2 linked regions of the Homo sapiens genome follow. The protein of the gene in region 1 binds, or shares a complex with, the protein of each later gene. Each region holds a gene or a part of one and is shown in the gene's direction. Other genes may lie near its edges.

Region 1 (3,749 bases):
TATATACGAGACAGCTCACCTAAGTACAATCAGAAAAGTTGCTTAATCTCTCTCTCCCACCATCCCCAGGCAGTATTCAATATAACTGCTACTCAAAACCATTTACCTCTGCAACGGACTGAAGGCTTCGAGCAAACTTTAGCTGGTTAACACCATGATGGACAGGCTTGCCGTAAGTTGCACCCTTAGGAACTGGGCGTTTTCGGCCACCACGGCGAACACGAATCCTATATATAACGTAACCTACACACAAACACACACGAAATTAGTGATTTTATAGGAAGCCGTAAGGCTTAAGACTCAATGGCTTGTCACTAATACTCCACCAAAAATACTTCAACAGTAAGTTAATGCTATCTAATAGAAAAAAATAAAACACATCCCAGTCTTTTTCAATGCACCTTAGGCTACTCACACAGGGAGGCACACTGTTTATTTTGCTTTAGTCTGAACTCATTCAGATTTGTAACCTTTGACACACTTGCCACTTTAGACAACAGTGCATACAGTAACTGACCAGTGTTGCTAGCTTTTTTCTGCCAAAGCCCTATGCGAAGAAAGACACTGAGGCAGCAGTGTCTTCCTAACAGCTGGTTTCCAACTTTTCTCGAATATAATTTTATCCAAGCATCCACGCAGTCGATCACGTACCTTGCTTGGCCTTGTAGCCCAGTCGGCGCGCTTTATCAGGCCGGGTGGGGCGGGGAGCCCTGTGGAGAGCAGAGAGCTGGCGGTACTGCCAGCAGCGGACCCTCAGAAGAAAGCGCATGACATCAGACTGCTTCTTTCTCCATAGCTCCTGGATGTACTTGTATGCACCCATCTTGGCTTACCTGTGAAATCAAACTGTGTATTAAATATCATCCGCTTTAAGTACAATAAGACGACTGTATCCGTCCATCTTAGTTCCCCAACAAAAACAAGGAAACCGCCGGGAATGAAAATGGCTCTGCACCAACTGCCGGGGACAGCTAGCCCAACCCCCACCACTGCGCCCACGGAGCCGCGTTCAGTCACTTCCGCAACCCCAGCACAGAGCGGTGCTCGGCACGTTTTGGTGGGGCGAATTAACAGAACCAGAACTGAGCACCAAGGGGGCGGGTGGCTGCGGCAGGCGGCGTCCCCAAGGAGGACCTGAAAGGAGATGCCGCTGACATCACAGGACAAGGTACTGCTGCGGCCACCGAGGATTAACTCTCGAGGAAAATGCATCTACCCCACCCAACCAGCAGCCTCACTTTAGGCTGCCTTGTCCCGGGCGCCCCATTCGTCAGCCCCACGCCTCCTCCAGGATCCGGGCCCAGCTCGAATTCGCGCCGCCATCACATCTTCGCTCAACCCGCCCCGGGGGCCGCCTCTCCACCCCTTTGCTGTCCCGCATCCTGACCAAACTCTGGCCGCACAGGAGGGAGACCTATCTCCGAGGACGCAGGGTCCCCGGACCTGGATGGCTGAAGAGGAAGACGATCAAAGGCGGATGGAAGAGCAAAGATCCTCAACGCAGCCTACCTGATGGCTGCCGCCAGACGGAAAGGAAAGAGCTGTACTCCCACAATGCCTTTTGGGCTCCTCCCCCACCTCAGCCACCCTCTTTCCGGTGGAAAGCTGCGGCCTCCCAGAGCGTCATGGGACATGTAGTTCCGGCATCGCGCCTGGTGGCGGAGTTCTGCCGAGTGGGGCGCCGCGGCCGCTATTGTCCCGCCCCCTGCTCCGCAAGATTCGAGCCTGAGCGGCCTGGGCGTCTCGAGAGGTGAGAGAGTTGGCGGCGAGGTCTCGGCGGCTAAGCGAGCGTCGGCGACTGTCTCTCCGCGAGAGGAGGCAAGTTGGGGTCCAGGCTCCAAAGCCGGTGGCCGCGTACCGCGGTGGAGCCGCTGTCTTTGAGGTCTGAGGAGAGAACAGGTTTGTTTCACGCACCGCGGGCTCTCCCCCTGCGGAGTCTCTGCGTCTCCGCGTCTCCGCGCTGCGCTGTCCCTCTCTGGCCACCGCACGACGGGCGCAGAAATCTGGGCCCCAGAGCTGCGCTGAGAGATCCCCCGACGCTTCCCCAGCCTCCCAGGGAGGCCTTCGCGGAGTCGGGGCGTCGCGGGTCGGGGCGCTCGCTGTGTCCCTTCAGCTCCAGACTGCGTGAAGCTCCTCCAGCAGGCCCCAGCGCCCAGGGATTTTGTCCTAAAAAAGGGTCATGGAGTGGGTGGATTGCGGGCGGCCCGGCGCTTTTTCTGCATACGGATTTCGTCCCAAATTTGCTAACATGAGAACCACAGTTTTTCAGAAGAGCAGAATGTTTATTTGCCAAGACCTGTTTGGCAGGTGTGAATGTTTTAGAGAAGAAATGCCGAGAAAATGCTGGCATTTTGCGTTGCGGGTTTTTTTTTAAATTGAGAAATAGGTTACTGGCTTACTTTGTTTCTCCAGAATATTTTCACTTGGCTTTAATTTAAGTCATGTGGCTTTAATTTCCTTCCAGATTATGCGTTCAGATGTGGCAAAGGCTTAAGAGAATCATTATCTCTTAATCGTAGCGGTTTTGATTATCTTTTTTCCCACATCATATTTTTCTTTCTTTCTTTTTAAATCACAGCTTTACGTTTTTAAGAGTCTCTATCTGGTTCATTGATTGATTCAACAAATATTTATTAAGTGTCTAATATGTGCCAGGCATAGTTGCTGGGGATGCAGCAGGAAACAACGCAGAATTTTTGGCCTTCTTGGAAATGGGCAGTAAGCAGAAGTAAGCTGTGTTTTGGGTTTGGTGGTAAATGCTAAGGAAAAAAGATAAGGGGAGGGAAGTGATGAGGGAGTGTTAGCGGCTGAGGGTTGCAATTTGGAATGGAGTGTCCAGGTTAAGTCTTTGAGAGAAGGTAACATTTAAGAAAGGACTTCAAGGATAGGAGTCTGGGAGTAAGAGTAGGGGTCTGATTCAGGCAGAGGGAGAAGAGCCATGACTGGAGCATGCAAGATTAATAGAGGAACAGCAGGGAAGCAGTGTGGCTGAAATTCACAGTAGGGGAAAGTGGGAAATGACGTCGGAGAGGTGAAGGTTCTCACATGGACTTTGGATTTCATTGGCAGATTTTGAACAGAAGGATGACTTCATATGGCGTACATTTTAAAAAGATAACTCGGATTGCTCCTTTTGAGGCTAAAAGGAGAGAAAAAATGGAAGCAGAGAGACTGCTTAGGAAATTGTGTTAGTCTTCCATTGCTCCTGTAACAAATTTCAGCAACTTTGTTGGTTAATAATACAAATTTACCGTCTTTTAGTTTGTACATCAGACTAGGTCTGTAAATCTGTAAATATCACCAAGCTAAAACCAAAGTCAGTAGGGCTGTGTTCCTTCTGGAGGTACTAGGGGAGAGTACATTTATTTCCTTGGCTTTTCCACCTTATGAAGCCTGCCTGAATTCCTTGGCTCCTGACTGCTTCCTTCATCTTCACAGCCAGCAAAGGAGCATCTTCCAATTACACCTTCTGTCCTCTCCAGCACTCCTGTGTGTCTCTTATAAAGACACTTGTGATTACACTGGGCCCACCTAGATAATTCAGGATAATATCTTCGTATGGAAGTTCTTAATTTAATCACCCCCGCAAAATTCTTGTATGAGTATGTAAAGTAAACATATTCACAGGTTTGGGGGATTACGATATCTTTGAGAGACCAGGTGAGAGAACATGGTGCCTCACCCAGACCACTTCAGTAGTGATGAAAATGGTAAGTAGTGCAGCCCTGTATGTATTTCAAAGGTGAGGA
Region 2 (3,749 bases), on another chromosome or scaffold:
TAACAATCTAGCTTCTCTTGTGGATGATGGTCTAGCTGTGCTGCCTTTGTCAGAAGCAGCCTGTTTTTGTGTTCTGAGGTTTTTCATGTGTGGTGTTTTTTTTTTGAGACTGGGTCTCACTTTGTCACCTAAGCTGGAGTGCAGTGAAGCCATCACTGCAGCCTTGACCTCCCAGGCTCAAAATCCTCTCACCTCAGCCTCCCAAGTAGCTGGGACTACAGGTGCGCACCACCATGCCTGGATAAGTTTTGCAATGTTTTTGTAGAGACGGGGTTTCACTGTGTTTCCCAGGCTGGTCTGGAACTCCTGGGCTGAAGCGATCCGCCCACCGCGCCCGGCTGCAGCCTGTTTTAAAGATGAGAATAGTGAGCCTTCTCTGTATGCCCGACCTGACTGAGCCTAGAAGAAGGGAGGCAACCATGAAGCCCCTGGACTCTGAAAGTACTGAATTTCAGGACACCCTGAGCCAGGCTGCCTCCATAGGTCCAAGCACGTTTGCAAGTATTGATTTTGGAAACTCCTCCTAGAAACAATAAGGGAAGGTCAGAGAATGAAAAAAGATGCGTCTGTGAATAAAATAACTGACTTAAATTAATTTCAAATGCCAATAATAATAATAATTTCAAAGGCCAAAGCCCTGCAAGTGAATCACGCAGGGAGGAAGATGTGGAAACTCTGCTTCTGAGGTTGGTTCCCAGCAGAGGTCATGCAGGAAACTTGGGGCATAATACAACAGGGTTTAAAAATACACTACGAGGGGAAGGGTGATGAAATGATCCTCTCGCTCGCAGAACGGTGCTAGGGGAGACCCAGCTCCACCCGCAACAGTGGCTTGGTGTTGCAGCAGGCATTCTTGTATTCCTCTGAGCACACCGACAGCAGCCCTGGGGAAGCGGGGGGTGCAGATGTGCAGGTTTTAATTTTATTCCTTTTCCCTCCAGTGATGAACAGCTGTATGCTCATCTGGACTCATTCAGACAAGCAATTTAGGACTGACCTCTAGTCTTAGACCCTTTGGGGAATAATCGAGTTGTAACTCATTGTGTAGAATATCGATATGTAAACACGTGGAGATTCCAGGAACACCGCCAGGGATCTGCAGAGCGGCCTCTGAAGTTTCACGGGCTTTTCCATTGACTCCAGCCACTGCTTCTTCAGTGGCTCTTCCTCCCTTTCACTGTGACCAGATGCCTTTTCTCTTCATTCTTTACTTATGAATTGGACAGTAAGTCTGAATTAATTTCACAAGATTCATAGCTTCTTTTATGCTGCAGAAAAGCCCAGGGCAAAGAATAAGAAGAAAGACATTCATGTGTTTATTCATTCAACAAACATCTTTGCCGGCATAGCGTGGGAGGAGGTCACCAGACCCTTCTCCTGGGAGTTTCCCTCCCTTCTGAGTGCCACAGATCCTCCCTGAAATGTGTGGCCGTAGAGCCGCCGTTGCCTCCATGACTTAGCAGTTCTCTGCTTCCTTTGCAGGGGCCCTGGCCTCCAGTCTGAGTGCTGACCTCGAAGAGCCCCTGAGTGAGGAGGAGACAGAACACCCTCTCCTGCCTCTGCCCCGAGCCACTAAACCCAGAATCTCCAGGAAATTTCGTTGCTGTACTAGTGCCCTCAGCAGGTCTTCCCATTAGTGGACTTCTGAAGCCCATGGTGAATCCCACTACCGTGTCTCAGATGGGACTCAAACTAGGCTGTATCATCTTGTCCTGAAACCTCACAAACCTTGGACTTCCAAAGAAGAAAAGAAAAAGTCACCAAAAACCAGAGATGAACCCACTGACACGTGGGCACTGGTGTGGCTGCTCTGGGCAGATGACAGCAGGAAAAGATTCTGCGCTTTCAGGGAGGGGGCAGAGGGCAGCTTGCTTCTGCACCCCAAGTTGTTTCTTCTCATTTATGAACCCAAGCATGATTCACAAAGGGGCTGGCAAAACAATTGTCTAATTGAGGAATCTGATCTGCATTGATTTTGCTAGTTCCTTTTATGTTAGGATTTATGGTTTACTCAAAAATTTCATCATCATGGAAATTGGCTTTCCCCGGGGTCTTTTGCCCAGGAGAAGTTTTACCTCAGTTGTCCAGTGTTTTCCCACATGGTACCTGACGCCCGCTAACTAAGCAGAGGCTCTCCTCACCACGCAGAGGCGCTTCAGGTCATGACAGTGATGCCCCTATCTTAGAACACTCAGAAGATTCCAGAAATACAGGGTCCTGTCCTTGCATAAGTTCCTGCAGGACAGGAAGTGTCCCAAGGCTCAAAACAACACAGACCACATCCACACAAAAGGCGCATGCCGGCTTCAGGCGCTAGGCTGAGACGGGTACCCCCCGAATGGCCTTGTGCCTCCAAAAGCCTCACGCTGCAACTTTGCTGCTCCTGTCTGTTGCCCAGAGAGGCCTCACACAGGCCTCAGAAATGTTTCTTGTCACACAAAGCTTTTGGTAGCCGATTCCAAGCGAGGGATTTAATCCTTACATTTTTGCCCATTTGGCTCCAAGGAAGGCTTATTAGACCTGTTTTTTTGTTGTTGTTGTTTTTTTTTCTTAAAAACAAAATGAATGAATGAATGAAAAGAGAAGCAATGGTGAGCCCTCTCCTGCTGGGGCGCCCTGGGTGGGCCTTGCCCGTCCTGCAGCAGAGAAATCAGTCAGCAGCGAAGAGCTGCTGGCGCAGGCCCCAGGCTGTGTCCTGGACCCTTGACCTGCCTCAGAGCTAGAGGTTTGCTCCACCCCGCACTTCACTTGGGAAGTAAATCCAAGAAGCTTACCAGAGTCCATCGCCACTGCGCAGGCTTTGTTCTCACAGCGGCCAGGTACAGAGCAACGCCCTGCAGTGGGAAGGGACAGCAGCACGAGAGACGCAGCCCCTAACTCAGGGCTTATGATGGGTGGGCTGGTCCTGGGAAAGGCGGGCCCTGTGCGGGAGGCCTCCCCACCTTCCTGTGCCCTCTGCCCTCTGCCCTTGCACACACTTGTTACCTTCAGGCTGCTTGGCCACCCAGGCCTGAAGAAGCCTTCTGAGGCTCTCACCCCATCAGAACGGCCATTTTCACTGAGGAGCCAGTTTTTTCCATTTGCCATGGAGCTGGTTTGGCTGGAACCTGGCCTTTGTAGGGAAAACGGGGAGACTCAGGAGCCAGACTCACTCTTGGGACAAATGAGAAAGAGCTGAGCCAGTCGTTCCTGTCGGAAGGGCGGGCCTGCTCATCCTGGCGAGAATTTGCTTTTCTGCTTTATAGGGGATTGCAGGCCAGGCCCACTGACAGGAGCACCTTGAGAACCACCTGAACAGAAGAGAATGAGGGTGCCCCAAAGTGGAAGGAAGCTTCTGGCCCCTGGGCCGTTTTGGGAAGGGCCCAGGATACTCACGGGGGCTGAAGGGCAATGTGAAGAGTGACTGCAAGTCCTGGCATTTTCTGTGGTGTCAGCAAATGCCCCTTTATTTTAAATGATTCCAGACATCTGGGCAGCATAGCTTGGCCACCATCACTCAGGCTTGATCCTGCTGTTGAGCTGCTCCTGTCTCCTGTTTACCTCACTCCTGTTGGGAAGGCCATCGCATGCTCCTAGGCTCCAGAGTCCCCTGTAGGTCTCTACCAGCAGGTCGCCTCTGGGAGAACGTTTCATCTTCAGGCTCTAGAAACTCCTGTTGCGGAATTGCTGGCTTTAGTAGAAAAGATATGTCAGGATTTAGAAATCGTATTGAACTCTCCTGGACTTCTGCTCCATGATTTCATTTTGCT

What was found.
Region 2: the proteins of NKIRAS1 (region 1) and RALGAPA2 are in contact, whole or in part, in a crystal structure (PDB 9QU1), measured with the Homo sapiens proteins. Residues at the interface, in NP_001364280.1 of Homo sapiens: Lys6, Glu22, Leu24, Leu25, Tyr26, Glu34, Met39, Glu40, Asp41, Val42, Tyr43, Met44, Ala45, Ser46, Val47, Glu48, Lys54, Gln56, His58, Tyr60, His74, Tyr75, Ser77, Phe78, Lys108, Thr162; in NP_065076.2 of Homo sapiens: Pro20, Lys21, Tyr51, Ser52, Gln53, Phe56, Tyr59, Glu60, Ile63, Arg99, Phe102, Arg103, Trp104, His105, Tyr106, Gln107, Ser108, Lys185, Ile186, Tyr187, Pro188, Glu189.

The regions. Positions count from the first base shown.
Region 1 is NC_000003.12:23,914,934-23,918,682, reverse strand, and holds the start of NKIRAS1 (NF-kappa-B inhibitor-interacting Ras-like protein 1), read left to right. Parts: upstream 1-1,692; 5' UTR 1,693-1,899; exon of another isoform or gene 1,900-2,728; intron 2,729-3,069; exon of another isoform or gene 3,070-3,710; intron 3,711-3,749. Other genes in the region: RPL15 (large ribosomal subunit protein eL15), read right to left, coding at 107-243, 652-823. UniProt on the Homo sapiens protein: Atypical Ras-like protein that acts as a potent regulator of NF-kappa-B activity by preventing the degradation of NF-kappa-B inhibitor beta (NFKBIB) by most signals, explaining why NFKBIB is more resistant to degradation.
Region 2 is NC_000020.11:20,390,987-20,394,735, reverse strand, and holds part of RALGAPA2 (ral GTPase-activating protein subunit alpha-2), read left to right. Parts: exon of another isoform or gene 1-1,225; intron 1,226-1,482; coding exon of another isoform or gene 1,483-1,637; 3' UTR 1,638-3,749.